7 linked regions of the Homo sapiens genome follow. The gene in region 5 interacts genetically with the main gene of each other region. Each region holds a gene or a part of one and is shown on either strand. Other genes may lie near its edges.

Region 1 (4,091 bases), on a different chromosome or scaffold from region 5:
TTGTCTGCTGGTAGATTTTGAAATCTTTTTCTTCAGAGTACAATTTTATGATTTCTCAGTTTCCCACTAGTTTCCTAGGATCATTTAACTTTTTGTCTTTAAATTCTTTTCTACCAGGAATTTTTAGTGATCCAATTATCTGAAAGGAGAGAAAAAAGTTAAAATGGGGTTTAGACTATTAATCATATTTTAAAAAATGTTCTTGGTCTCTGAAACAGAAGTACTTAAATTCGTCTTTCTAATAAAAAAATTATGACGCAGGTTTGTAAGTCATGGCATAAAGCAAACATGTACTATGGTATAACTGCTGCCCAAAGAAGTGACGATGTGAGATGATTATGCAAAATGTAGGACATTTCTAGTTTGAATCACAGCTGCCTAAAGAGAACAGTGACAATGATCATGAGGGTGTCACATTGTCACAATGATGATGAGGCATCATTCTAAGAACTTCATAAGTATTAATTCATTTTTCCTCACAGTTCTGTTAGGAAGTTACTGTTATCTCCATTTTACAGTGAGCAAATTAAGGTAGAGAGAAATCAAGTAACTTGCCCAAAGTAAGGGTCAGTAAGGAGGACAGACAGAACATGACTTTGTCTGACTCCAGAAATCACACTCTTAACCCCTATGCTTTGTCAGCTTTCCAGTGACATTTGTACTAGGCTCTTGGGCATGCTTTCATGTCCAATTTGTAAATCTTTCAGAATAAGAAGTGTGTACTGAAGAAAACAATTACATGAATGCTTTATAATTTTTTTTACCCTCTTGTTTTTTTTAAAAACATTCCATGATCTTAGTACTTTATGATTTAAAGTCTCCATTCTGAAAAGACAAGAGCAAGTTAACTCTAAAATTGTTCTGTGGCATACTTAAATCATTCATTAAGTACCCATTATAAAAAATAAGCATTGCCTCCTGGCCCACTAAACGAGAAGCTGCTAGGAATAAAAGATTCTGCAAAAATCTTACCTGGTGTTTGGTAATAGTTTTCCCAGAAGAAAATGGCTTTTGAAACAAAACCATAAAAAATGCAGTCCTGTAAATATTGAAACATTAATATATTAATATTAATCCATATTAAACACAAGATACAGTTTTAAGTAAAGACACTTATTTTAAACAAATATGCCAGAACTTGAAGTGTTATCCTCTGAATAAATCATACTGGAGAATTAATTATACTTATTTTAGTAAAACTCCTATTGCAATATTTTGATAACTTTTTTTTTTTTTTTTTTGAGATGGAGTCTTGCTCTGTCACCAGGCTGGAGTGCAGTGGCACGATCTTGGCTCACTGCAACCTCTGCCTCCCGGGTTCAAGCAATTCTCCTGCCTCAGCCTCCTGAGTAGCAGGGATTACAGGTGTGCGCCACCACGCCCAGCCAATTTTTCGTATTTTTAGTAGAGATGGTGTTTCAACACGTTGGCCAGGCTGGTCTCGAACTCCTGACTTCAGGTGATCCGCCTGCCTCGGCCTCCCAAACTGCTGGGAAAACAGGCATGAGCTATCACACCTGGCCGAGAACTCTTATTTTCTAACTGTCTTCAGAACCAGCTAACAAGCCACAAAAATAAAGGAGTCACAATTTTTTTTATATCTTAAAATATCAAAGAAGAGAATTCCTATTTTCTCTAAAATTCAGTAATAAATCTTGAAATAGTATAATGAAAATGAAGAAATTACTAATTATATATCCCTACCTTTCACATTGCCAAAATAGTTATATAAAAATGCACACAACTTGGCCAGGCACAGTGGCTCAAGCTTGTAATCCCAGCACTTTGGGTGGCCGAGGTGGGCGGATCACCTGAGGTCAGGAGTTGGAGACCAGCCTGGCCAACATGGCAAAACCCCGTGTCTACTAAAAAAAATACAAAAATTAGCTGGCCATGGTGGGACACACCTGTAATCCTAGCTACTCAGGAGGCTGAGACAGAATTGCTTGAACCCTGGAGGCAGAGGCTGCAGTGAGTTGAGATTGAGCCACTGCACTCCAGCCTGCGCAACCTAGCCAGACTGTCTCAAAAAAAAAAAAAAAAAAAAAAAGCACGTCACTGGTGCTTAATATTTCCTAGTCAATAATCTCTTTCCCAACTTACCAAAATTATACTTCGAAGAGTGTTGTTTTTGTTTTTTTTTTTAAATGGAGTCTCGCTCTGTTGCCCAGGCTGGAGTGCAGTGGCATGATCTCAGCTCACTGCAACCGCTGCCTCCCAGGTTCAAGCAATCCTCCTGCCTCAGCACCCCTTGTAGCTGGGATTACAGGCACATGCCACCACGCTTGGCTAATTTTTGTATCTTTAGTAGAGACAGGCTTTCGACATGTTGGCCAGGCTGGTCTCCAACTCCTGACCTCAGGCGATCCACCTGCCTCCGCCTCCCAAAGTGCTGGGATTACAGGCATGAGCCACCGTGCCCAGCTGACTCCCAAGAGTCTTTAACAGGTTTTTATTAACACAGAGGGTGGTCACTATCAATCTCAAGGTCCAAGAAATCTTTATTTAGAATTTCTTATATGTAGGCCAGGCGTGGTGGCTCATGCCTGTAATCCCAGCACTTTGGGAGGCTGAGGCGGGCAGATCACAAGGTCAAGAGATTGAGACCATCCTGGCCAACATGGTGAAACCCTGTCTCTATTAAAAATACAAAAATTAGCTGGGCATGGTGGTGAGCGCCTGTAGTCCCAGCTACTCGGGAGGCTGAGGCAGGAGAATCGCTTGAACATAGGAGGCAGTGATCTTGCAGTGAGCCAAGATCACGCCACTGCACTCCAGCCTGGTGACAGAGTGAGACTGTGTCTCAAAAAAGAAAAAAAAAAAGCATTTCGTATAAGTAGAATAAATTAATGTTCACACTACATGAGGACTCTGTACTAAGAAAGGATTATGCAGTGAATAATAATAATAATAAATAGCCCAAAAACTAAATTTGCAAAAATCTCATCAAAGTTTGTGTTTAGGCAAGTGATTAGAGCACAACAATCCGTTTTCTTTTCAGTCTCTTTGTACCTCTAATCTTAAGTATACTCCCAGTTAAAAAAGTTTATCAAATACTTGTCAGGAGGAACAAACAAAATATTGTATGTAAAGTTTCTTAAAGATACTCTGTTAAAACAGGATTTTCAAAGAAATAAAAAATATCAAGAAAAAACCCCCCCCCACACTCACCCAAGTTTTAATATAAAAATGAACTGAACAATGTGAACAGCTTTTAGGAGATCATATGATTCGAAAAGTCCCACAGCCTTCAAAAATTTAGTGAAACATAGTAACACAATATATTTTGTTAATCTGAAAAATAAAAGCAGAAACAATTTTTAGTATCACTGAAATTACAAGCAGCTCATCAATCTGGTTTTTTAAACAAGAGGTCATTACAGAAACCACAGAAATATACATAAACACAAAATGAAACAAAACAGAGTCCCCAAACAACTCACCATCCACGTGATAACTACTGTTGACTTTTTTTTTTTTTTTTTTTTAACTCATAGAGACGGGGTCTCAATGTGTTGCCCAGGCTGGTCTCGAACTCCTTTGGTCAAGCGATCCTCCAGCCTTGGTCTCCCAAAGTGCTAGGATTACAGGTGTGAGCCACCGCGCCCTACTGTTAACATTTTGAGGCCAGGTGCAGTAGCTTGAGACCAGCCTCCGCAACGTGGCAAAAGCCTATCTCTACAAAAAATACAAAGAATTAGCCAGGCATTATGGTGCGTGGTAGCAGTCTCAGCCACTCGGGAGGCTAAGGTGGGAGGTTGAGGTTGCAGTGAGCTGTGTTCGTGTCACTGCACTCCAGCCTGGGCGACAGAGTGAGACCCTGTCTCAAAATACAAACAGGCTGGGCGCTCATGCCTGTAATCCCAGCACTTTGGGAGGCTGAAGTGGGTGGATCACCTGAAGTCTGGAACTCAAGACCAGCCTGGCCAACATGGCGAAAACTCACCTCTACTAAAATACAAAAATTAGCTGGGCGTGGTGGCGGGTGCCTGTAATTCCAGCCACCTGGGAGGCTGAGGCAAGAGAATCGCTTGAACCCGGGAGGCAGAGGTTGCAGTGAGTCGAAATTGCACCACTGCACTTCAGCCTAG
Region 2 (4,091 bases), on a different chromosome or scaffold from region 5:
CTGCTATCTCCACCACACTGAAATGGGTTCTTAATTCTTTTTAATCATTTCTCTTTTTGTTTAATTCTGTTGATTTTTCTTTGGAAATCAAATAAACAATTAGTTGGGAAAAATGCATAAGGGAATTTCATGAAATTTACCCAATGCATACGTTATTCCACCAACTCTCCCTAGATAGAGTTTGACTGATCTAGATCCAAACTCCATAAAGAAATTACTGAAGTAATCAATTTTAGTCCCTGTAATTGAGTGTTTTGATTGACTAGTGTAATTGAAAGATGAGAAACTAGCAGTCTGTTAAGACAATAACCGCTTCAATTCTCCTATGTCTCTAGACAACACTTATTTTTACCGTACTCTAAAATCTGGAAATACTGACACGTAGCTAACTCATTAAAATCAGTTACTGCTTCAATAAACAGGTAATATACACTAAAATATGAGCCATCCAATAAGCTATCTTTAAGACAATGTTTACTTCATGTAGCTTACAAAGAATACCCTCTGAAACTAATTTGTCACCATATTGATTATAAGATGTGAAATGTTTTTTAAAACATAGGTTCAGGTGAGAAAGAAGACACAGAGTGAATAAGTAGGACACAAAATCATGTCTCCATACCGGTGGCAAAGATCCTGGAGGCATCTGGTACATCTGAACAGGGGGTCCAGAAGGTGGAGGATGAGCAGGAGGGCCTGGTGTTTGGCACTGCTGCAGCTGGGGTGGTGCAATGTAAGGATTAGCCCTGCTGCTGCCAGGGGTATGGCGATATGGATTGTATCCTGGTTGGGGAATTCCTTGGGGTTGGTTCCCAAAATATGAAGGAGGGAGACTACTTGGCTGAGAAGGCAGATAAGAATTTATTCCCATCAGTGAGGAAGGTGGAGCACCAGGTTGAGCCTTCGAAATGGATGGTGAAAATGCATTCGAGACATCTTGGGATCCAGTTGTAAAAGGGAGAGCAGTCAGGGGCTTGGGGAATCCTGATTGTCCAACTGAGGTTGCTGCAGTTGTTAATGGTGACTGTCCAATATTCCCAAAAGGATCACTGCTGCTTGATACCTGAGAGAAGTAACTAAATGTCTGTGGGGCAGATGTGTGAATAGAAGTCTGACCAAGGAAGCTGTCCTCCTCACCAACATCTGTGGAATCCTCTGAAATGGAACAGGAGAGCATGTGGTTTAAAGGGTACTCTATCACTCCGCAGATACGATTCTATAAGGAAGGGCTAGCAATTATACTTCCTTATTTGTTCTTCAAACTTGCTATTTCTGCATTACAGAAAAAAACAGTTTTTTCTTTTTTTCTTTGAAAACTTGCTTCTTAGAAATGAAAAACTAGAAAACATGAATAAGAAAACATAAGAGGAAACAATTATAATTCATTCATAAGCCCACCTGCCAGAGACAATCACGCTGTTAACACTGTTAACATTTTGCTACATACCCTTCCATACTTCTAAAATAAATACAAATAGTTATTTATTTTGTAAATATATATTTGTATATGTTTTTAAAAATAGAAACAAAATCTATACTTACTATTTTTATTTATTTTTTTTTTTTTATTTTTTTTTGAGACGGCGTCTCGCTCTGTCGCCCAGGCTGGAGTGCAGTGGCGCAATCTCAGCTCACTGCAAGCTCCGCCTCCCAGGTTCACGCCATTCTCCTGCCTCAGCCTCCCGAGTAGCTGGGATTACAGGCACCCACCACCACACCCAGCTAATTTTTGTATTTTTTTTTTTTAGTAGAGATGAAGTTTCACCATGTTGACCAGGCTGGTCTTGAACTCCTGACCTCAAGTGATCTGCCTGCCTTGGCCTCCCAAAGTGCTGGGATTACGGGCATGAGCCCCCGTGCCCAGCCTTACATATTATTTTTTATCTTTTTTTCTTGGTAAGAAATAATTCAACTGTTACTCGACTACCCAAATACATATATTTTTATTTCTATAGTGATAACAAGAGACTAAAGATAACTCTGTTGACAAGAAGGGGTGTGTCAGGAATCTCACCTACAAAGCACTTATTGTACAAATGAACACGTGGTATTTGTATTCCCAAGTAGGTCAACCATTAATTGCCATTCCCTAAAATCATGCACTATCACAGACTTATCATTACAGAATACCAAATTGCTGAGAAGGTCACTTTCTAACCAAGGGAAGATCTCCCATCCCTTTGCCCAACTTGATGTTCACTGTGGGTATTAACGACTCCAAATAATTTAGCTTCTGTTCTACTACCAAGTTGTAAAATAAAAGCATCTTCCCTGTATATCACCTCAAAAGTCCACGTTACTATTATTCCTTACGAAACTTTTATGTTCCCTAGCTTGTAGCTTTCATATTCCTCCTCCTAATCTTCCCTGCTCCTGCCTCATTCCCTCTTACCTCCTTGCTGGAGGCATGGAATCCATCAGAGGGCTGGACTCACTCACAGCACACAGGCACACTTCGGTCCCTGCCCTTGGAGACCTGCCAACAGGCAGCCTTATTCCAAGCTCCGGGCTCCAAGCTTCTTGACCTCTGCTGAGACTAGGGCTTGAGCTTCTTGAGCTCTCATTATTTACACACATCAGTTTAACTAAAATACTCCACCATTCAAAATACTCCTTTTGGTAGTTTCTTTGTAACTAAAAATAAAATATCCCTTGCTGCACAAGGCCTTGTGTCTACTTGAATCATTCCACTTCTCTGATATATTTCCAGCTCCCACCCCTCTTTTCAGGTCAGTGACCCTCACTTGGACTTATTTGTATTTCTTAGTTCATTCCCAACAATTAAAAGAATGAAAAAAAAAAAAACTCAGTGGTATCTTTCATCCTTTAGAAAAACTTGAGGTCAACCTGGTCCGAGAAACTTTTTTTCTGATTAGCATCAACTACAAATGAAGTGCTCTCCATATACTGCTACCCTCACCTCAGGGGCACTTTCTCATTTCATTTGGACACATGTCATCTAAAGCCACAACTTTAACAGGCACTTGTATATTTGTGACACTCCCAACTCCATCGTAAGCCCAGACCATTCTCGTGTGTTCCAGAACTTGTTTTCCAACTACTTCCTCAATGTTTTTGGCAGATTCAGTCACATATACCTCATGCTTAGTAAGCCTAAAACGGAGTTTATCTTAACTACCCACCTCCATGCTCCCTTTTCTGTATTTCACAATCTCCACAGATGTTTGCCAACATTCATTCAGACATTCAAACCAGAAACCTCAAGTCTGAGACTCCTCCCTCTCTCTCAAACCCTTCATTTAATCATTCAAATATTTATTCAAGAAATATTTACTCAGGATGCATTCTGTGCCAGGTACAGAGCTCAGTCTTGGGTCTAAAACTAAACAAAAATGGGCCTCTGTTCTGACAGACAGAGCTGACACTCTGGTCTTCTGTGAGTCTCTACAACTGTATAGTCCACACATCTCGCACATCTGCTCCCTGCTCCTCACACCCAATGTGGCTGACTCAGGCTAGACTGCCATAGCCACTGCCAGCCTCTCACTATGCCTCCCAACTGAATCCTCTTGCTACAGTCAACCTTATTCCAGTGCGACTAGAGAAAACTCCAGTCTTTCTGAAACACACGTCTAATTTCACTGCCTTGTTGAAAATCCTTCAAAGGCTCCCCAACACCCCACAAGATGAACTACAAACTCCTCCTGAGTATGGCATATGTGGCCCATAGATCACTGAGGCCACTCCACTGCACACACTCTAGTCAAAGTGATCTACTGGGGGCAGAGGACACAGGGGAGAGGAGACAAAGGTGAAGGGACAGGAGAGAGGGATGAGCTCCATCCCTGTCCCATTCCACCAACCACTAACTCCTGCCAAATCTGAAGATTTTTTCACACCTTCAGACTTCACATATGCCTGTCTCTCCAGTTTCCCTCACTTCTATGTATCCTTCAACACTCAGCTCAAGCATCACCTCCCCTAAGAGGCCCTGAAGGCCTAAGGGACATCCATTCCCCGGCTCAGCCAGCCTGATACCCGTAGCATTCATAGCCATCTATCAATCCCTCTTTCTAACTGTTCTAAACCTGTATCACAGTTGCTTACACAGGTGGGTGTGTGTGTATACA
Region 3 (4,091 bases), on a different chromosome or scaffold from region 5:
CGCCTCAGTCCCCCAGTAGCAGGGACTCCAGGTGCGTACCACTATGCTCAGCTAATTATTGTATTTTTTGTAGAGATGGAGTTTTGCCATGTTGCCCAGGCTGGTCTCAAACTCCTGAACTCAAAAGGATCCGCCCATCTTGGCCTCCCAAAGTGCTAGGATTACAGGTGAGTCATGGTGACTGCCCCCTCATTTCCTTTAATTATGAATGCAGACAATAAACCACAAGTAATATCAGCACTATCTTTACTGCCAGTAGAAATCAGACTAATCAGGTTATTTTACAGTTGTAGATTATCTTTAAATTATCGCTTTCACTCATCACTACTTTAAATTAAGGACTTATAGAACTGCTGCCATACTGCATGATTACAGCTTTCCTGTCTGCAGATGCTCATGTGATGGAGCTGGGCAACTATCAAGTAGCTCTGCATCTAACAGTCACTCAGCCACCAAACAGTGATAGTCACAAGGCTCTCCCATTGGGGACCAAGATACTTATGCTGCTTTCCAATATTTCCTATCTGCAAAATTCCCTGCTGACATATCTGAAAAAATATGTCTACACATCAATCCCTGGAGAAGTTTTATAACTCTCAAATTTATTTCTATCACCACAGGATCGAAGTGTATCATGTATCAGAATCCTTTTTTATTAATATAAATCGTATGAAAAATGTTGACCTAGCCAAAGATAAATTCATTGATCTTAAAACAAAACAGTTACTATGACTGGAGTCAAATTTGAAAAGTCTTGGGGAATTCTAGTTGTCCTTTAGAGAAGCTTATGATTCCTTAAAAAGCAAGCTACAAATGTGTTTAGGTACATTTGTAAGAAAATACCTTTGTAAATCAAGATTTTCTACACCAATAACCATCAAAACAAAAACCCAAAATCAACTAGATGTTTAACTTGACATACATGTTGCCTTGTTACAGACTACCTCATAATTTAATGTTCTTAAGCCAAGCATATTATTATGTAATAGCTAGCATACTAATGTCCTAGAAAATAAAATTCAACTCTAACTTGTTTAGGATTTAAATGTATTATCTCATTATTTAATGCACTGATAAAGACATACATTACTATATCACAAATTTGTTCTGATGTTTTAGTAACTGTATTTCAACAAAGGTGGTTTTCTCTTTGATCTTATGTACTATGTTTTATACATTTAAAAACAATATTCCAATAAAAGGTCCACAGTCTTTAGACTGCCTAAGGGCTCCACAGCAAAAAACTAAGTTAAGAACTTCTGCCCTAGACTCTCAACCAAATGTGACAACTTTAAGACAAGCAAAGTAATAAACCAATAAACACTTCTTTGCGCCACATGCCACAACTCACTAGCTCTCCCCACTTAGTTAAATGTTCACTAGAACCCAAGGAAGACAAGAGTTTTAGCACTAAATATGGCCACTGATACAGACTGAAATATTTGATCGTTTGTAACTTTCTCAACTGCAAATGTATTGCACTGCCCAGAAAGCCTTGGAGCCACTCACCGTCAGTAGAATGCACATGGGAGTTACCAATCTGGTCCACCAGCAACATGAAAACGAAGCCCAGAACGAGGGAAACACCAATATAGGCATGCAGCTGTGTGTGGTCGTGGCTGTGCTCATGTTCATGGACAACTGATTTTTCTGCTGCTTTGTCTGATGCAATCACATTATGTGTTTCACTTGCTTGGTGGTGTTTTCCTAGAGCAGAATAAACCATAAAGAGAAAATATGTTTTTCCCCTAAAAACATTTTCATGTAGGAGTTTCCATTCTTTGTATTTCAAGCTCTACTTACTTTACTGTAAAGACATCCACTTTTTATATTGTAATCCAGCCAATCATTAACTCCTTCAACTTAAAGTTCATGATGAAAAAATTCCCAAATGTCTTCTGCCTTTGGCATGCAGACCTTCTGACTGCCTATTATTCTCAACACCTGGGAAGTGGAAGCAAATCACCATGCAAGAAAGCAATCATATTCCCAAAGGGACACCATCCCCAAATATTCCTTTATCTGAGAAATTCATGCCAATCTCACCAGAAAATACACTGTTTTTTTCTGATGAAAATAGGCAAATGAAGAGCAGTAACAATGAAAATAATTGCAATCAAATTCATCTAGTTTATACCTAGGCTGAGATAAAAATGTAAAATAAGGAACAAATTGAGTAGAAAATTTTTAGCTTTATAAAATATCAGCAGACAATTGCCAGCAAGAAACCAAAAGGGCAGAGCAGTTTAAGAGGCACATCCTTCAGTCTAAATTCAGTTCTAGAAATATGGAGGTTGGGAGACTCTGAACTGCAGTAAATGATACCTGGCCAGCTGATAATCCCAGTTTACAGTAACATATTTGTCATTTAAAACATAAATGCTTCAAAAGGCCAAAAAGCTTATCTTTGCTATATTTCATGAATAGAGAATAACATACTAGACATTTATCATTTATAATCAGATTAAGCAGTTTAAGCCTTCTTTAAAAATTGAGACAAGGTCTCATCTTTCACCCAGGCTGGAGTACAGCAGTGGTGCAATTATGGCTCACTGCACCCTCGACCTCCCGGGCTCAAGCAATCCTCCTACCTCAGCCTCCCAAGTAACTGGGAAACCACAGGCAAGTACCACCATAACCAGCTAATTTGAAAATTTTTTTGTAGAAATGTGGTCTCCCTATGTTGCCTAGGCTGGTCTTGAAATCTGGGGCTCAGGTGATCCTCCCACCTTGACCTCCCAAAGTGGTGGATTACAAGTATGAGCCACTGTGTCCAGCCTAGAGATCCTGTCTCTTAAAAACAAAACAAAACAGGCCAGGTGCAATGGCTCATGCCTGTAATCGTAGTACTTTGGGAGGCCAAGGGGGGCAGATCACGAGGCCAGGAGATCAAGGCCAACATGGTGAATCCCCGTCTCTACTAAAAATACAAAAACTAGCTGGGCACGGTGGCGCGTGCCTGTAATCCCAGCTACTCAGGAGGCTGAGGCAGGAGAATCGCTTGAACCAGGGAGTCGGAGGTTGCAGTGAGCCGAGATCACGCCACTGCCTTCCAGCCTGGCAACAGAGGGAGACTCTGTCTCAAAAAAACAAAACAAAACAAAACAGTTTCACAAAATAATATCCAACCTTACAACAGTTACAATGTACTCTTCTGTTTCTTTCTCTGTCTCTCTCTCTTTCTTTCTTTTTGAGACAGGTATGGCCCTTTCACCCAGACTAGACTACAGTGGTGCAATCTCAGCTTACAGTAACCTCCATTTCCTGGACTGAAGTCATCCTCCTACCTCAGTCCCCCAAGAATCTGGACTACAGATGTGAGCTACCAAGTCCTGCTAATTTTTATATTGTTTTTGTGGAGATGTAGTTTTGCCATGTTGCCCAGGCTGGTCTCAAACTCCTGAGCTCAAGTGATCCGCCCACCTTGACCTCCCAAAGTGCTGGGGTTACAGGCTTGAGCCACCGTGCCTGACACTATTCTTATGTTTTTGAGACAGAGTCTCACTCTGTACCCAGGTTGGAGTGCAGTGGCATGATATCGGCTCACTGCAACCCTGTGCCTCCAGGGTTCAAGTGGTTCTCATGCTTCAGCCTCCCGAGTAGCTGGGTTTACAGGTGTACTACATGGTGAGTTCTTGCAAGATCTGATGGTTTTTAAGGGGCCCTTCCCCTCTTCATTTAGCACTTCTCCTTCCCGCGGCCTTGTGAAGAAGGTGCCTTGCTTCCCCTTTGCTTTCCGCCACGATTGTAAGTTTCCTGAGGCCTCCCCAGCCATGCTGAACTGTGAGTCAACTAAACCTCTTTAATTGACCTTTATAAATTACCCCGGCTTCAGGGCCTTTTGTGGTTACATATGAATTTTAGGATCGTTCTATTAAGGTTTATTTGGCTTACAGTTCTGCAGGCTGTCCAAGAAGCACGAATCTGAGGATCTCAGGAAGCTTCCAATCATTGCAGAAGGGGAAGAGGAGTCAGTATTTCACAAGACGAGAGAGGGGAGGGGTGCCATGCTCTTTTAAACAACCAGTTCTCTTGTTAAATTATAGAGGGAGAACTCACTCATCAGCAAGGGGATAGCACCAATATGTGCA
Region 4 (4,091 bases), on a different chromosome or scaffold from region 5:
TCCAGCTACTCAGGAGGCTGAGGCAGGAGAATTGCTTGAACCTGGGAGGTGGAGGTTGCAGTGAGCCAAGATCACACCACTGCACTCCCGCCTAGGCGACAATGTGAGAGACTCCGTCTCAAAAAAAAAAAAAAGAAAAAAAGAGGGAAAACATAAAAAGATTAAGAATTTCAACTGTGAATTGGAATTTGTGTCAAACTGAAATTCTAGATCTGAAAAGTATTTCTAAAATTAAGAATTCAAACCGTGTATTTAACAGCAGAACAAACACAGGAGAAGAGTATTTTCTAGTACTCAGATTCTTCTCCAAATACACATAAAGCGTCTGCTGAAGAATGAAACTGAAATCTTTGCATTTCACTGACGTAAATGGCAGAATCACTACCATAATCACTATTGCTCATGTTTGGGGCTGGAACTGGTTGGACCTGTAGTCCAACTGGCTGATCAGTTTTTCTGTCAGAATCTAAGAACCTTAACCTTAAAATAATCTCAACTTATTTCTCAAGCACCATTATATGTGTGTATATTATATTTAAATGTACCAATATATTTATAGCACTAGAAAAATATGTATCTTTTAATGCATTGAGTTACTAGACAGAAGTATTAAAAAGGCAAAAATTCCTCTTTAAGGAAATAGCTTACATCCTATAAGTGCTCTTACAGGTAATGAAAAAACTGTGTCTGCAATTTGTTCCCTAATATGTCATAAACCAAAAATAGGCTCTTGGGAGAAAGTAATATCTACTCAACATAGCTGGTATTTAAAGAACTTAAATACTGAATTTCAGTACTGTCTCTGTCATAAAACATTGTATTTCCTGGGGCAAGTAACACCTTAACAATGTTTTATAAAAAGCATCAGCAGTTAGCATATGGGTATGAAAACACTTTGCCATTGAATTTCTCATAGATGGTATTAAAAAGTGTCCATTCATGACTATACAACTTTTAAAACCCTAGACAAATAAAAATCCACATGCACTCACTACAAATAAAATCTACACTCTCATCAGACAAAATCTACATTCTCAATACAACCCCAACTGCAACGGCCAATAAATTTACACAAATAAAAATATAATCCAACTTGCTAAACAGGACCCAAACGTATTATCTCGTGAGACACCAGTTATGATAAATTTTGGACATTCTATTTCATTATTCTGTAGTTTTGTTTGTTTGTTTTTGAGATGGAGTCTCGCTCTGTCGCCCACGCTGGAGTGCAGTGGTGCGATCTCGGCTCACTGCAAGCTCCGCCTCCCAGGTTCCAGCGATTCTCCTGCTTCAGCCTCCCGAGTAGCTGGGACTACAGGCGCCCACCATCACACCCAGCTAATTTTTTAAAATATTTTTAGTAGAGACGGGGTTTAACTGTGTTAGCCAGGATGGTCTCTATCTCCTGACCTCGTGATCCGCCCGCCTTGGCCTCCCAAAGTGCTGAGATTACAGGTGTGAGCCACCGTGCCTGGCCTGTTTGTTTGTTTTTAGAGATGGAGTCTTGCTTTGTTGCCCAGGCTAGAGTGTAGTGGCTATTTACAGACACAATCATAGTGCACTGCAGCCTCTAATACCTGACCTCCGGCAATCCTCCTGCCTCAGCCTCCCAAGTAGTTGGGACTACAGGTGAACAACACCTCGCAAAGTTCTGTTTTTTGTTTTTACACTTTGTATTTGCTTTCTTACAATATTCTATTCAAAACTTTGGTCACTAGCCCAACTCCTTTTTGAGGAACACATTTAGAAAACAATGTCAAAAGCTTTATGGATATACAATTAAGGAAACACAGCATTACATAACTATATTTAGGCAAGGGCAGTTTCACCCACTGTTTACTGAGTAAGAGTGAATAAGGATGGTCTCTCTCCATTAACACAATGCATGGCTCCTGCTAGCATTTGATAAATTTGAACTATTATTACTTGAAAGTGCAACTGTTCAGCTGGAGCAAAATACAGGCAATACAACTTACTGGACATTTCATCTGAGACGAGTAGATCTGGATCTGCTCCCATCTTCATATTTGGTATTCCCTCAGCCCATCTCTGTATGGAGGTGAGGTGGCTTTCATTCAAATATGTGCCCCTGTCAGACATACACTGGGTCATGCCACCACCAGGGCTTCAGTGGAGGAAGTCACGGTGAGCCTGAAGGCCTGATATCACCTACCAAGAGCCTCAGGGAACCCAGCCAGCAAAGCAGCAGCGGCCTTGCTCTTATGACATAAAACAGTTTTTGGAGAGTGCCCAGAACCAGGGTGACAGAAAACTCTGTGAGGGTTTCAATAAGGTGCTGAAACAGTGCAGACTTGCAAACAGATTGGTCTAATCAGAAAGTTCGAATTGGAGAAATGGAAAATCAGCTCTCATAACCAAGTGATTTAGCACAAAAATACAATTGATAGTGAAGGTATAAAGTGTAATCATCAGGTAAACCTCTCCTCTCTCATAGCGTCCCTGCTTCAGGACTGCAATGGAAAAGGAAATTCTTACTGTGTAGAATTTCATTAAGATGGCTGGGTAGATGTTTGTGTGGCACCCTTGAACTAGCCGTTATGATTTTATTCTTTGTTGAGTTAATTAGAATAAAGTGATTTTCCTCAAAAAACAAACAAACAAATATGTGCCCTTGTCAGACTGTTCCATCGTGATACCCCCACGATAAACCATGCCTGTTAAAACATATGGTTCCGTGATTCACCAACAACAGAAAACAGATGCATTCAAGGAACTTGTGAGGAAGCACAAACTCAAACCCCACTGCTGATAAATTCATTACAAAAGATCCACTGAGAAAGTATGGAAGGTAGGTGAAGAATGTGCAATCCACCTACTCATCTAGATAATCTAAAACAGATCCTTAAATCAGCCTAGAGATCTAAGTACTCGGATCACATTATTTTGCAGGCAAGAGAAATGCTTTTACGGAATGTTTTGATGTTATGTCACCGTCTTACACAAAAAGCCAATAAGGAGTTTTACTAACACACAAAGTAAAACTCGACACCCAGCCCTTTGAAACGCATGCTGGAAAGTCTTTGGGAATCCAAAGCAGAAATGATCTCTTTTGTCGTATGGTCACTGACCCATGTAACTGATTATATTTCTCTCTTAATTGGCTACTCAAAAGCAAAGCCAAATTTGTGGCCCTCTGCACTTAAGACTTCAGTCCAAGTGCTCTGTGTACACAGCTCATTCCTGTTTCCATCTTAATTTTCCCTCAGTCCTGCATTCCTCACCCACTTATCTGTTATGTTACCAACAGTATGTCGCACGTATCTTTGTAAGTCATTACAAACCCTTTCTGGAACAAGATGTGGAATAATGGAATAAGTAAATGATATGTTCCACTGAAAAAAATTATAGCACAATAAGAAAACATTTTCTTCGATTAATAAACATTTTCTATGTTCAATTTCTAATGGCATTTTCTTTTATGTGCTCCAAAGTACCTTCTAAAGGAAAAATGAAAGTGCTTAAAATTAGAAAATTCTAATTTTAAGAATTTAAATTTCCTCTGTACAACAGAGGAACTACAAAAATAAAACTTTCACTATGTATTTTTAACTGCAAAGCACACAGAAAATTATAAATATACCCCTATGTGAAAATCCCCCAAAAGCGATTTTTAATTTTAGCATACAGACCAAATCACCATAAATTCAATTACAGTTGTGTATTTATTTTGAATGGGAACTGAACAGACTAGCTTCAAATGTGGTTCATAAGGTCTTTGTACAATTCCTCCTGAGTTGTTCTGTGCCTAGCATAGAGGATGCTGCCAAACCATTCCTTAGGGTGAAACAGCAGAGAATTTAGAGCCCTCAAAACTCTTGTTACATTCCTGCTTCAGAGATTTCAGCAATCTGCTCACTGTTACTGGGGGAAAATTAAAAAGCTTAATACTCTCTCAGTGTGTAATATTTTACGCATTCATGAACACATACTTATTCTAACTTCTGACTTTTAACCACATTTAATTAATTGATCATAATAATGGTATTTGGCCCTCTTAATGACCATTGCCAAGAGAGCTATGCTACCAGAAACAAATTAAAATGTTCCACTAGGGCCGGGCACGGTAGCTC
Region 5 (4,091 bases):
GGGATTACAGGCGTGAGCCACTGCACCCGGCCTTTTTTTTTTTTTTTTTTTCTTCATTAAAAGAGACAGGGTCTCTCTGTTGCCCAGGCTGGAGTGCAGTGGCGTGATCATAGCTCACTGTACCCTCAAACTCCCGGGCTCAAGTGATCCTTCCACCTCAGCCTCCTGAGTAGCTAGGACTACAAGTGCATGCCACCACACCTGGCTAATTTTTAAAATATTCTGTAGAAACGGGGTCTTGGTATGTTGCCCATGCTATTCTTGAACTCCTGGCCTCAAACAATCCTCCTGCCTTGGCCTCCTTAGGTGCTGGGATTACAGGCATGCCACTTGGGCCCAGCCAGGGCCAACTTTTAGCATCCATAGGTTCTATGGGTCACACTGCAGAACTTGAGTATCTGTGGATTTTGGTATCCTCAGGAGGTTCTGTGACCAGTGCCTTGTGGATACCAAGGGACAACTAAATAGCATATACATAAACCAGTAACACAGTCGTTTGTTATCAGTATTATGTATTGTACATAATGAGTATATGTGCAAGACTTTATGCTACTGGCAGTGCAGTAGGTTTGTTTTATACCAACATCACTGCAAACACATTGTAAAGCATTGCATTACAGTGGTTACAAAGTCACTGGGTAATATGAATTTTTCAGCTCCATTATAATCTTATGGGACCACTGCTGTATATGTAATCTGTCGTTGACCAAAGTTTTACTGTGTAGCACATGACTATGCTTAGAAGGAAGGATCAACTATGTAAATAATGAAGGAGGAGGCCGGGTGCATTGGCTCACGCCTGTAATCCTAGCACTTTGAGAGGCTGAGGCGGGCGGATCGCTTGAGGCCAGGAGTTTGAGACCAGCTGGGCCAACATAGTGAAACCCTGTCTCTACTAAAAATACAAAAAATTTAGCCAGGTGTGGTGGCACATGTCTGTAATCTCAGCTACTCAGGAGGCTGAGGTTCACTTGAACCCAGGAGGCGGGGGCTGCAGTGAGCTGAGATTGCACCACTGCACTCCATCCTGGGTGACAGAGCGAGACTGTCTCAAAAAAAAAAAAAAAAAAAAGATGAGGAAGAAGGGCAATTTTGGTAGTAGGTACAATATGTATGAATGCCTTGGGTGGAAAAGATCTTGGTTTGTGAATAATTGATAGGCAGCCCCGGGTGAATCTTGAGATGCAAAGACATATTCCTGTGGGAGAAGAAAACTAATATATCATATTTGACTTGTAGCTTTTTCAGCCTAGTAATTATGTTAGTTTCCCAGTTTTGTTGGTGTTTGAAGAACTATTTATAAAGTCCTTTTGTATTTATCTATGTGATAAATACAGAGCTTTGAAAATGTATACTACAGGCAGCTGTCTTTGAACTTTTTCTTGTTGTTTCAAAATTGGGCAGACAGCTACAGGTTGAATATCCCTTATTTGAAATGCTTGGGACCAGAAGGGTTTTAGGATTTTAGGCTTATTTGCATATACAAATGAGATGTCTTGGGGATGAGACCCAAGTTTAAACACAAAATTCATTTATGTTTCATACACACGTTGTATGCTTAGTCTAAAGCTTATTTTTTCGTTCGGGACACTGAATAAACTGTGTTGTGCCACCTGCGTTTTGACTACAACCTGTTACGAGGTCAGATGTGGAATTTTTCATGTGTGGTTGATGCTTAGAAAGTTTCAGATTTTGAAGCATTTCAGATTTTGGACTTTCAGGTTAGGGATGCTCAACTTGTATTAGTATCTGAGGACACTTAACAACCAAGTTGAACCATCTGTAGGAATGCATCATTTCATCACTGATAGATGACTTCAGTTAGACTTATAAAAAAGGCCTTAAGGCTGGGTGTGGTGGCTCACGCCTGTAATCCCAGCACTTTGGGAGGCCGAGGTGGGTGGATCACCTGAGGTCGGGAGTTCAAAACCAGCGTGACCAACACGGTAAAACCCCATCTCTACTAAAAATGCAAAAATTAGCCAGGCGTGGTGGCACGCACCTGTAATCCCAGCTACTCAGGAGGCTGAGGCAGGAGAATTGCTTGAACCCAGGAGGCAGAGGTTGCAGTGAGCGGAGATGGTACCATTGCATGGCAGCCTGGGCAACAGAGTGAGACTCTGTCTCAAAAAAAAAAAAAAGCCTTAATGGCAAAATATACTGTGGACAAGAGGCTGGATACTGTCGATACTGGCAGTGAATGGCCTGATTTCATTCACCAGTTGCTAAATCTGAAAATATTCTTGGCCTTCCCCACTGTATGTGACCTCGGTTCATAATTGGGATCCAAAGGTGACAAATATCTAGAATAACTTTGTCTCAGAAATAGTATCACTTAACTGGGGTTTACCATAGTAGAGCCAGGTATTACCTATCTTTCTTTACAACTTTAAGGAAGTAATTTTACTTCTGAGTTCCAGATTTTTCACTTGTTAAACAGTAGTCTTCCCTTCCTATTCTATGGCATTATTAGGAGGAGAAAATGAGATATGAATGCTTTTGAGAAAGTTAAGCAGTATAGCAAGATGAAGATATTTTCAAGCCCTTATCATCCATATGCTCTACTACCTACCAAAGATCCAGTTCATACTTTTGTTTATAGTAATTGGAACTTTTAAAACTCTAGGGTATAGTTAGTGGCTTGCAGCAAGAGCCCCTCAGTTCTCTTATTTTTTTCTCGTTGGTCTTAGGACCAGAGTCTGCAGGATTATAATGACAACGCTGAACTTTCCAGTTCATCCTTGCCTGAATTGTTAGTGGAGGCTCATTTTATGTAGTGTAATCAACTTTATAAATTCTGGACTTGAACATGAATGTATGTACCTGTACTTAATTCACATTTATCTGTGGTTTTAATGTATATTAGTGGCCTTGTTGGTTTTGGTGTTTTAAGTCTGTAGTTAACCTTTCTTTATTATTCATTGTATATGTGAGATAATATAATCAAGGATTCCTTTTGCACAAATAATTTAGATGGCTATGGGTATTGTGATGTAAAGATTTTACCAGTTGTCATATTGGCTTTTAAAAAAATCAGATATATTTTTGAAATCTATTACTGTTTCTAAATGTTTGGTATTTACCATTTTGAAAATACTTGATATATTATATTTAACAGTGTCATTTACAATTTTTTTTTGAGACAGAATCTCACTTTCTTGCCCAGGCGGGAATGCAGTGGTGCGATCTCGGCTCACTGCAACCTCTGCCTCCTGGGTTCAAGCAATTCTCATGCTTCAGCCACCCAAGTAGCTGGGATTACAGCTGTGTGCCAACGTGCCTGGCTAATTTTTGTGTTTTTTGGTAGAGATGGTGTTTCACCACGTTGGCCAGGCTGGTATGGAACTCCTGACCTCAAGTGATCTGCCTGCCTCAGCCTACCAGAGTGGAGTGCTGGGATTACAGGCATGAACCACCATGCCCAACCTCATTTACAATTTTTAAAAAAATCTTAAGATCTGTATTTTTTATAGTTTATAAAAGTTTTTTTGTGATCACAAAAATACATGCTTTTGGTAGAAACACAAACATACAAAGATGTTCTATAAAACTGACTTTTTATCGTACATTTTAAGATATTTAAAAATATTTTCTGTAATTTCATGAAGAGTACTAAAGCCACAGTCACTGACATTGTAAACACCTCTGTTCATTCTCTAACCTGTTAGGTGGTTAAGCTATTTTTAATTCTAGGGGGCTCAGGCTGAACTTGAGGTTGGGGAGGAGAATTTGCCTCTGCTTTTAGTTGCAATTTTCAAGTGAGGTGAAATTAAGTAAAATTTGTAAGAGCTTTTTTGGCTTTTTAATTCTAGATAAATACATAAATAAATTTGGGTCTCTGTAATAGAATATGTGCTTTTATAGGATAGTGATATTTGCTTGATAAATGGAGGATTTACTTACTAGTGTGTGTATTGATAAATACAGACTTTGATTAGTTTATTCAAGAGAGATTTTTAAGTCCCTACTTTATGCCATACCTTGAAAAGTTTTAGAGTTCCAGTGATGAGCAAAATGTTTACTTTCAATTGTAATTCAAAATGCAAATTCCACTTGTTTACATGGAGTTATTAGATTGTAAATTTCTAGAA
Region 6 (4,720 bases), on a different chromosome or scaffold from region 5:
GGAGATAAGGGTTAAGTGACCTGGGGATATTGTTCTCCAGATGTCTAAAAGGTCCATTTTTTTATTGGAATTATCTCTACTTTAAAAAAAAAAAAAAAAGGAATTATATCTACTTTTGATAAATACCTAGCTTACCACACAATTAATACCTTCGCCCATATAAGATTCTACTTGAAGCTTCGTTTTTGAAATTTTAGGATTGTAGCTATTATAAAAACAAAATTTAAGAACACACAACATGTACAATGGGTCAAGAATACATGCCTTAGATTCTGATGAACAGGACAAGAAGGTTAAGAAAATACTATAACATACTCTAAGTTTGGGGGTACATTTTAGAGATTTTTAAGTGAGAAATCCAATAAATCTTTAAGCATTTAGCTTTCCATTATTGCAGCGCATGAAAAGACTTTTTTAAACTAATTTGTAATACACAATATATTCACTCCACAAATAACTATGTACATATATATGCCCACATCAATTTCCTACTCTTTTAATTAAAAATTTATGTTTCTTTTGGTCATAAAAATCTGGTTTTGGGTGTTTTAAAAGTTCAAACAGCTATTAAGCTATACTTTGCTTTGGCACTAGCTCCCCCTCCAGACCAATGTACTAATATAACAGCATTTTTAAAAATAATAAGTTAACAGTTTTTTCCAATCCACTGGCAAATTTTAAGATTCACCACTTTTAAGGACACTCCAATTGCGTAAAAATAACTGGTAAGAATTTGCAACAAAACAATGCAGGATGTAATCAGAATTAGTTTTGTTTTGTTTTTTTCGATTCCATACATCTTAAACAGAACTGATTTGTAGGAAAACAACTTCAGGTGACTTTTTAAATTCAAAAATATCCTCAAAATATAACCTATATAAGGCCGTACTTTATGGAAATTATTTTGAATCACTATCCTATTACACAAGACACTCTTCAAGTTAACTCACAACTTGACCAAAGATACATTTTTGCATCTGTTTCTGCAATCTATGCAAGTTTCATTCCAGCTGTTCAGCTCTTGAATTCAAATAGAATTCTCAATTTATAAGGCAGCAAAAAGAAAATCCATGTCTTGGAACTACCTTTGTACGTGTCTTATAGCCTATTCATCTCTAACTCCCTGCATTTTTTACACACTAAACCTGTGAAATCACAATTACAAATGCTTGAATTCCCACCTTTTCAATACTACTGTAGTATTTACAAATCAAGTAATTAAGATTTTCTATACACATACCAGATTTCACAAGGACAGCAAGGTACAGGGCCTTATTATTTGGCATAGGGTTTTAAGATGTTTTTACAGTTATTTTAAAGAGCAGAGACTACAACTCCATTATTTCTCATATATCTGATATACTGTAGTGCTTAAATAATAATTTCTCTCCTAAAATACTTTCTATATGATGCACCTATTTAAAGAATTAGTCATAAAACATAGAATGTAAATTTAATCAAGAAAATAAACATGCACCTAACCGCCGGAATAACAAGAAAAAAAAAATCTATAATGAAACCTGCCTACAGTTTTCATAGAGGCAAGCCAGTTAAGTCAGTTACTTGAGATGCGTTTAACTCTAAACTGACACAAAACTTGTGTTGAATTTGTTCCGCAAAACCTTGAAATTTGGGGTTATGTACTACAGAATTTGGCTTTTCTGGGTCCACCTTCCTGAGTGGGTTTAAATAAACTGTGAATAATTAAAACATAGGAAGGAAAAAAACACCACCTGTCCGTGCCTTTAACCAAGGCCTCAATCTATATATTATATGGCAAAATGCTAAAATAAAAGCTCATCCGGGACAAACCCTAAGCATGACACTGCCACTTAAGAAATACACTGCGTCTCTGAAGATTGCAATCCCCACTGTGAAGAAAGAACAGGTGCTGCACCCGACAACCCACTCAATCCTGCAGGACAAACCTCCTAGAACTGATAAATATGGACTCATTTAACCTTCCCAAATAAGTTGATACTCAAAAGCCGCCAGCTCGTCATTTGCACATCAAAAGGGAGTACAGCTGCACTCAAGCCTTTAACTGCCCTGCATCAGTCCCTCGCGGATCTTTGTGAGGGTCCACTCCCTGCTTTCTAGCCCGAGCAGCACTCAGAAAGAGCCCATAACGCACGGGCATCTTCCTCCCCACAAACCGCGACTCCAGGGACCGAGCTGCTGACGAAGGGAAGGTAGGTGTGGAGGGGAAACGACGGACACCTCCCACCCCCGCCCCCAACCCTTCTCCTTCCCTAGGCTTTGGCCCCTGCCCTAGGCAAGGATGCGCGACGCCGAGGGCAGCAGCGGCGCAGCTCCGCGTCCCGGCTGGAGAGGCGGGCGCCCCTCACCCTCTGCCCGCGCCCCCGGGGCTGCGCCAAGGCATCCGCCAGAGCGTCCCGGGGGCTCCCTCCCCACTTTTCCGAGAGCCGCTGGTTAACCGGCAGCAGTTGCAGCAACAGGCCCGGGTGAACGAGCAGGGACAGCCGCGGAGCCTCCTCAGATCCCGCGCGCAGCCCAGCCCAAGACCCCGAGGCGCGCGGGGCCCGGCTCCCAAAACGCCCCCTTACCCCAGGCGGGAGCAGAGGCGGTCTCCGCCGCTCCCCGTCGCAGCTGCCAAAGCCACAGCCCTCAGCCGCAGCTGCCCCACGATGGGGGAGTGGGAAGGGTGGCTGAGTGGAGGATGCTACTCCCGACCGAACGGAGAGGAAGAAACGGAAACAGGAACCGCCGCCGCCGCTTAACGGAGCCTTCGGCGCCACTGACTGAGGCAGAGCGCGAGGCGGCGCGAGCCGGGCAGTCGCTGACAGCGCGAGACCGAGAGCGAGCTGGGTCCAGGGCGCGCGACCCTGAGCAGTGCCGGCCCCATTCCGCGGGGAGACGAAGGGACGGGTCGGCTGGGGCCAGGCGGCGGGGGTGGGATGGGGAGGGGGCCTGGAGAGGAGGGAACCGGCTGCTCGGGTCGGCCGGAGATAACGCGCGCACGCGCCGGAGCGGCTCTGACAACGAGCGCAGGCGGGGAAGCCTCGGCCAGCGCCGGCGTGCGCGCGCGAATGGGGGAGCGCGCCCCTCGGCGTTCCTGGCTTCTGGGAGAGGGCGCGCATGCGCCGGCCGCTGCCACCTACGGCGACCCTGGCATGTGCCAGGGATTCTCCCCGCCCCCTTCCTCGCTGCGCCGGTGGAGAGCGTAGCAGCAGCATCCACCGCCTAGCAGAGCCGCGGGCCACAGCGGGACGGCACAGTTCCAGCAGGGCAGCGGCTGCGCACGCCGGCTCCGGCTCGCACACAGGCGTAGGCCGCCCTCTACCGCCTGAAGGCCGGAGGCTGAGCGGGGCGCGAGCGGATCCTGGATCCCGGGAGGAGACTCGCCTCCAGAGAATGCTGTGCTCCCTACAGCGCCGGGAATGGACCGGCCCGTGCCAGCTCAGTCGGCGGCCCTAGGGGGCACCCGCACTAGAGGTTTTGAAGCTGGCTCCTTGCTACTTTTAGGGGTGCGCGCTGCTGCTGCTCAGCCCCTGCAGCCCGCATTTGGCCGCTTGACTGCTGCTTCCAGCGCGATCCTACAATGGCATCGCTCCCCCAGGAGACTCAGCGAAGCCCTACTTTATCTTGTAAGAGCTGTTTCCACATTCACTCGAAGAGAAAGACCCCCCCCACGAGGGCCTGAGTTCGATGCCCGGCCTCTCCCGACCCGCGGCTGCGACAGCCCCTCTGAGGCGGAAGTTTATTTAGTACGGGAAAGAGAACAGCACGGGGAGAGGGGAGAGGCTTTGCCCTAGGATGCGTCCTACCCGCTCGGACTCGGAAAATTCCCGGCGCCCGCGATGCAGAGCAGTGGACCGAAGGGCTGCCCCAGAGCAGCCCAGACCGCCAGCTGAGCGGGAGGACCGGAGCGCGCCGCCCCAGCACACAAAGTAGTCGCGGGACGAGGGGTGCCGCCGAGGCCAATCAGAGCTGCGCGCCGCGTGAGTGGAGTGCGAGCCGGCCAATCAGAGGGCCGGAAGATGAGCTTCCCGTTCCAAACTCTTCCCTGTAGCCTTGGGACCCAGATCCCAAGCCTGGGGCGCTTTACGGTGGGAGAGCGAAATGGTGCCCTTAAGACAAGAATCATTTCTCTAGGCTTGGGCATTTTAAAGTACATACCGGGGATACTTATCCCAAAGCAAGTAGCGGCGGCCTTTTAGATGTTAAATATTAAAAGATCACAGAAAGGAGATTTAAGAGGCAGTGGCCTGTCAAGGTTGCAATCTGCCTAATATTCATAAATTCACATATTTATTGAGACCTTCTTATGTACCAGGAACTCTATCACAGATACACAAATAAGGTACTGCTGATTCAAAAGAAAATCCCTTGTCCTCAAGCAGCTCAGGTTGTGAGGGAGGCTTTCCTAGACCTTGAGACTCGTATTTATTGTCAGCTCTTTAAACAAAAAGCACTCTATGAAGTGCTGTACTTTACAGTCGTTTTTATGATTATCTCCCTGTGAGAAAAGAAAATTGAAAGGAAAGTAGAGTGACTTGTCCAAGATCACACAGAAGATGTACTAGCAGAGCCAGAATTATGTTCTAGCTCAGTTTGGGTGTCATCATTCAATAAAATAATTCAATAACAATTTGTAAATGCATGGATGCTCTCTCCCATGAGATTTCTGTACTAAACGTATAAGCAGGACAAAATTCTGGTATAAAAGTGACACACTTTGGTTGTTGGAAATGAACAC
Region 7 (4,091 bases), on a different chromosome or scaffold from region 5:
AAGATCACAATTATTTATGAATTTGAGAGTTGTCAGATCTGTTAGTGGGCAGTATCAGTAGGTAAAAATAATGAAATTATTTCTTCTAACTCTTCAGAATCAGACAGTGATTCTATTGTGAAATGATGACAAGAATCCATACTCATGGTTATCCTAGCAGTGGGAGAACCCTCATCAAGTAATTCTCTAATGATTTTTGGGGAGAAGGGATTCAACTTATTTTTTTCTGCTGTTGTTAGGATGTGAAAAAGTCTGTTTTATGGCTCTTACAGCTTTGGGCCTGATTAGCAAGCCTAACTTGCAGATATTGGAAGGCTCCATTCTTGAGCCTATGCACCATATGCTGGAATTTATTATCAGTGACTTAATTTGGGGCAACTTGAGGACTTCTGTGCTCTAAGAGAAAAAAATAGGAGTCTAGACTTCTTGTTCTCTTCCAAACTGGAATTCAAAAGCCATGGTATTGGGGTCTCCATACTGTTTAATTGCCTGGATTATGAGGAGAAGACAGTGTCACAAAACTGGTTCTTAGCCTGGTTAAACCATATTAGCAAAGTTAAACCATATTAATGGTTTTAGTTTTTACTACAGAGAATGACGTGAAATCATCAAATATTCTATCTATATATTTGTTTGGTGGAATCCATATAATTTTTTTTTTTTTTTTGAGACGGAGTCTTGCCCTGTCACCCAGGCTGGAGTGCAATGGGAGTACGATGGCGCGATCTCAGTTCACTGCAAACCTCAACCTCCCGGGTTCAAGCGATTCTCCTCCCTCAGCCTCCTGAGTAGCTGGGATTACAGGCACACGCCACCACAGCCGGCTATTTTTTGTATCTTTAGTAGAGCCGGAGTTTCACCATGTTGGCCAGGCTGGTCTCAAGCTCCTGACCTCGTGATCTGCCCGCCTTGGCCCCCATAAAGTTCTGGGATTACAGGCATGAGCCACCGCACCTGGCAAATCTACATAATTTTAAGTATAAAATGATTAATTTTCTTCCAGACAGATTAGAATTTTTTTTTTTTTTAATGAGATGAAGTCTTGCTCTATCGCCCAGGCTGAGTGGCATGATCTTGGCTCACTGCAACCTCTGGCTCCCAGGTTCAAGCTATTCTCCTGCCTCAGCTTCCCTAGTAGCTGGGACTACAGGCATGCGCCACCACACCCAGCTAATTTTTTTTTGTATTTTGAGTAGAGATGGGTTTTCACCATGTTGGATTAGAATTTACAGTGATTTCATTGTCCTCAATTTAGTTGCCTCAAATTTTTAAATATTACATTTTTTGTTAATTCATATGAAAACAATATTTTAAGAATCATTCATTTACTCTTTGTTTCTGCTAAAGTTTTAAGACTATTATTACTTAATATATTAATATCGATACTTCCAAGTCCTTTATATCTATTGAGTTAAACATGTTGACTACTAGCGTTTTTAGGCAGGAAGTGATTTTATAGGGCATCTAGTTCAGATCCCTTATTTTGGTAAGAGAAAGAATTTTCAGGTTTGTAGATTACATTCACATTTACCAATAGCACTTTGGTAAAATACCACATTGGGATTGGTTTTTGTTTTTTGTTTTTCCTTTTCTCCCTGCCTGTTGGTAGGCAGGGTATCCCTACCATATCTTATTCTTTGCAATACTTCTACTTTAGGTCCTGTTTCCCTCTGATTTGGCAAGAGAGACAATCTTGCAATAATAAATTAACATTCTAGCTCTGAGGAGTTCAACTAAGAAATTTTCTCATCACTAAGAGTAACTGGATTACTGCAGAATGACTACAGAAGTAATATTACATTATCGACCATGTGAGAGTGATCCCACACAACTGCCAAAAATTGCAGAAAAAGCAATTCAAGACTTTCCTACTCGTCCGCTATCAAGATTTATACCTTGGTTTCCATATGATGGGTCCAAGCTTCCACTCAGACCTAAAAGATCACCACCTGTGATTTCTGAAGAGGCAGCTGAAGATGTGAAACAGTACTTAACCATTTCAGAACATGATGCTAAGTCACACAGTTATGATTGCACAGTAGATCTATTGGAGTTTCAACCTAGCTTGAAAAAGCAGCATTTAACCTGGTCACACACACTGAAGGAACAGACTAATTCTGGAAATCTGGGTAAACAATCAGAAAAGGGAAAACAGCACAAGAGGAGATCTTGGAGTATTTCCCTTCCCAGCAATAATTGTACTAAAAACGTTTCTCCTTTGTCTAAAAAATTGCAAGATAGTTTAAAGGCACTAAATTTACACTCACTTTATAGAGCAAGATGGACAATAGAACACACTATTTGTAACAGCCAAACTCTGGAAGACATTTGGACAAAACTCAATCAAATTATTAGGCACAATGAACTTCCATCTTGTAATGCTACAATTCAGAGGCATTTAGGCCAAATATGGGTGTTCTGTGATATTATGTATTGTGAATATGTGGGAAGTCTTCTTAAAGGAAGATTAGCTCTTACTGGAAAAATTAATTTATTTGTGCATAAATATGGTGTTATTTTTAGTATGTAATGAATTCCACTGATTGTCAAAAAGAATATTCTGAATGAAATGAATATGGATTGAAATAGATAAAATAATTTTTACAGGTTTTAAAATTTTTAATGACTTTTTAGAATTCCTAGGCTTGTCAATTAAGTCAAGAAATTGCTGAGTTCTGCTTATTGGCAGCCTTCTTTTAAATGTGATAAATTATTGTTTACACTGAATTTGAAGGTAAAAATGTTCTGTTCCTTTTGTTACAAACTGTGATTGAATTAGTCATGAATTAAGTTGTATAGTTTGGATTTTGGTTAATCTCTAAAATCTAATTTTACTGTATTTTTTTCCTTACCTCAAGTGTAATTTTTTAAAAAATAAAACTCGAAACAATTCTCTTTGGAGTGCTATTTATGTGGCATGAATGTAGTTCAAAGTGGGAGACTAGTCTAGATTTATAATGATGTTTCCAAAGATATGTAATAACAATTGATAGGCTGTTTTCAAACAACGATACAAAATGTATACTTTGCCTAAAACGATAATGTATCCTGTTTTGAAGGAAAGTATCAAATGTTGAATGATTGTTTATTTCTTCTAATACAGATAATTCAGTATTAATGATAGTTAGTGCTAATTATTACTTGGCTGATGATTGGAGTCATTGTAGGTTCCCCATAAGCATAATCTTGTAATTGGTTTTACACATCACCTCATAAAAATGCTCAAAGGGATTAAAACAGTAAAAGTTTTGTAGAAGCATGTATGTTTGTTTAACATATTTAAATGCCTACTTTGCACTAGGTGCTAGGATATACTAGGGAAGGAGACAGACATGGACCTTGCCCTCACACAGCTTACATGTCATTACTACTATTAAACACACCAGCTCCCTAAGAAAAATAAGACTGCACTTAACTAGGAATATAGACATGTTTACCTTGAAGCTCAGTGCCTGTCATGGTAGGAGCTTGATAATGCATGGTAAACATTCCCTTCAGAGGGATTCTTCATAGCCTGAGATGGCTGAGGTTGCTTAAAATGGAAGCCCACTAATTTTTTTTTCTTTCTAACTTTTATTTTAGGTTCAAGGGGTACATGTGCAGATTTGTGATATGGGTAAATTGTGTGCCACAGGGGTTTGGTGTACAAATAGTTTTGTCACCCATGTAATCAGGATAATACCCAATAGGTAGTTTTTTAGTCCTCACCCCCTGCCACCTTCTACCCTCAAATAGGCCTCAGTGTCTATTGTTCTGTTTTTTGTGTCCATGTATACTCATTGTTTATCTCTCACTTATGAGAATATGTGGTATTTGATTTTCTGTTCCTGCATAAATTGGCTTAGGATAATGGCCTCCAGTTGCATCTACGTTGCTGCAAAGGCCATAATCTGAAAATATGAAGAAAAAAGTTGCTTTTAATACCAAGTTGGGATCACTTTATTTTTAATGGAGGATCATTTTTTACCCACCATCTCATCCCCTGCTAAACCACAGGAATCATGAAAAACTAAGCTTTATAGGACTTTTCTTTATAATAGAAATTGGAACCTATAATAAGCAAATATGTTAGCTACATGTTTGGGTGAACT

Evidence for each region.
Region 1: changes in MTF2 (region 5) and SLC30A5 together harm fitness less than expected from each alone (positive genetic interaction), as found in Homo sapiens cells (one large-scale study listed by BioGRID).
Region 2: changes in MTF2 (region 5) and SEC23IP together harm fitness more than expected from each alone (negative genetic interaction), as found in Homo sapiens cells (one large-scale study listed by BioGRID).
Region 3: changes in MTF2 (region 5) and SLC39A9 together harm fitness less than expected from each alone (positive genetic interaction), as found in Homo sapiens cells (one large-scale study listed by BioGRID).
Region 4: changes in MTF2 (region 5) and RABGEF1 together harm fitness more than expected from each alone (negative genetic interaction), as found in Homo sapiens cells (one large-scale study listed by BioGRID).
Region 6: changes in MTF2 (region 5) and FUT8 together harm fitness more than expected from each alone (negative genetic interaction), as found in Homo sapiens cells (one large-scale study listed by BioGRID).
Region 7: changes in MTF2 (region 5) and TRAPPC13 together harm fitness more than expected from each alone (negative genetic interaction), as found in Homo sapiens cells (one large-scale study listed by BioGRID).

What each region holds. Positions count from the first base shown.
Region 1 is NC_000005.10:69,100,010-69,104,100, reverse strand, and holds part of SLC30A5 (proton-coupled zinc antiporter SLC30A5), read right to left. Parts: intron 3,295-4,091; coding exon 3,172-3,294; intron 1,040-3,171; coding exon 973-1,039; intron 140-972; coding exon of another isoform or gene 56-139; exon of another isoform or gene 1-55. UniProt on the Homo sapiens protein: Together with SLC30A6 forms a functional proton-coupled zinc ion antiporter mediating zinc entry into the lumen of organelles along the secretory pathway.
Region 2 is NC_000010.11:119,895,491-119,899,581, reverse strand, and holds part of SEC23IP (SEC23-interacting protein), read right to left. Parts: intron 1,156-4,091; coding exon 623-1,155; intron 1-622. UniProt on the Homo sapiens protein: Plays a role in the organization of endoplasmic reticulum exit sites. Specifically binds to phosphatidylinositol 3-phosphate (PI(3)P), phosphatidylinositol 4-phosphate (PI(4)P) and phosphatidylinositol 5-phosphate (PI(5)P).
Region 3 is NC_000014.9:69,439,685-69,443,775, reverse strand, and holds part of SLC39A9 (zinc transporter ZIP9), read right to left. Parts: intron 1,945-4,091; exon of another isoform or gene 1,804-1,944; intron 1,708-1,803; coding exon 1,510-1,707; intron 1-1,509. UniProt on the Homo sapiens protein: Transports zinc ions across cell and organelle membranes into the cytoplasm and regulates intracellular zinc homeostasis. Participates in the zinc ions efflux out of the secretory compartments.
Region 4 is NC_000007.14:66,747,076-66,751,166, reverse strand, and holds part of RABGEF1 (rab5 GDP/GTP exchange factor), read right to left. Parts: intron 1-4,091. UniProt on the Homo sapiens protein: Rab effector protein acting as linker between gamma-adaptin, RAB4A or RAB5A. Involved in endocytic membrane fusion and membrane trafficking of recycling endosomes. Stimulates nucleotide exchange on RAB5A. Can act as a ubiquitin ligase.
Region 5 is NC_000001.11:93,085,445-93,089,535, forward strand, and holds part of MTF2 (metal-response element-binding transcription factor 2), read left to right. Parts: intron 1-4,091. UniProt on the Homo sapiens protein: Polycomb group (PcG) protein that specifically binds histone H3 trimethylated at 'Lys-36' (H3K36me3) and recruits the PRC2 complex, thus enhancing PRC2 H3K27me3 methylation activity.
Region 6 is NC_000014.9:65,411,062-65,415,781, reverse strand, and holds the start of FUT8 (alpha-(1,6)-fucosyltransferase), read right to left. Parts: upstream 3,053-4,720; 5' UTR 2,568-3,052; intron 1-2,567. UniProt on the Homo sapiens protein: Catalyzes the addition of fucose in alpha 1-6 linkage to the first GlcNAc residue, next to the peptide chains in N-glycans.
Region 7 is NC_000005.10:65,627,811-65,631,901, forward strand, and holds part of TRAPPC13 (trafficking protein particle complex subunit 13), read left to right. Parts: intron 1-1,657; exon of another isoform or gene 1,658-1,777; coding exon of another isoform or gene 1,778-2,530; exon of another isoform or gene 2,531-3,118; intron 3,119-4,091. Other genes in the region: SHLD3 (shieldin complex subunit 3), read left to right, coding at 1,778-2,530.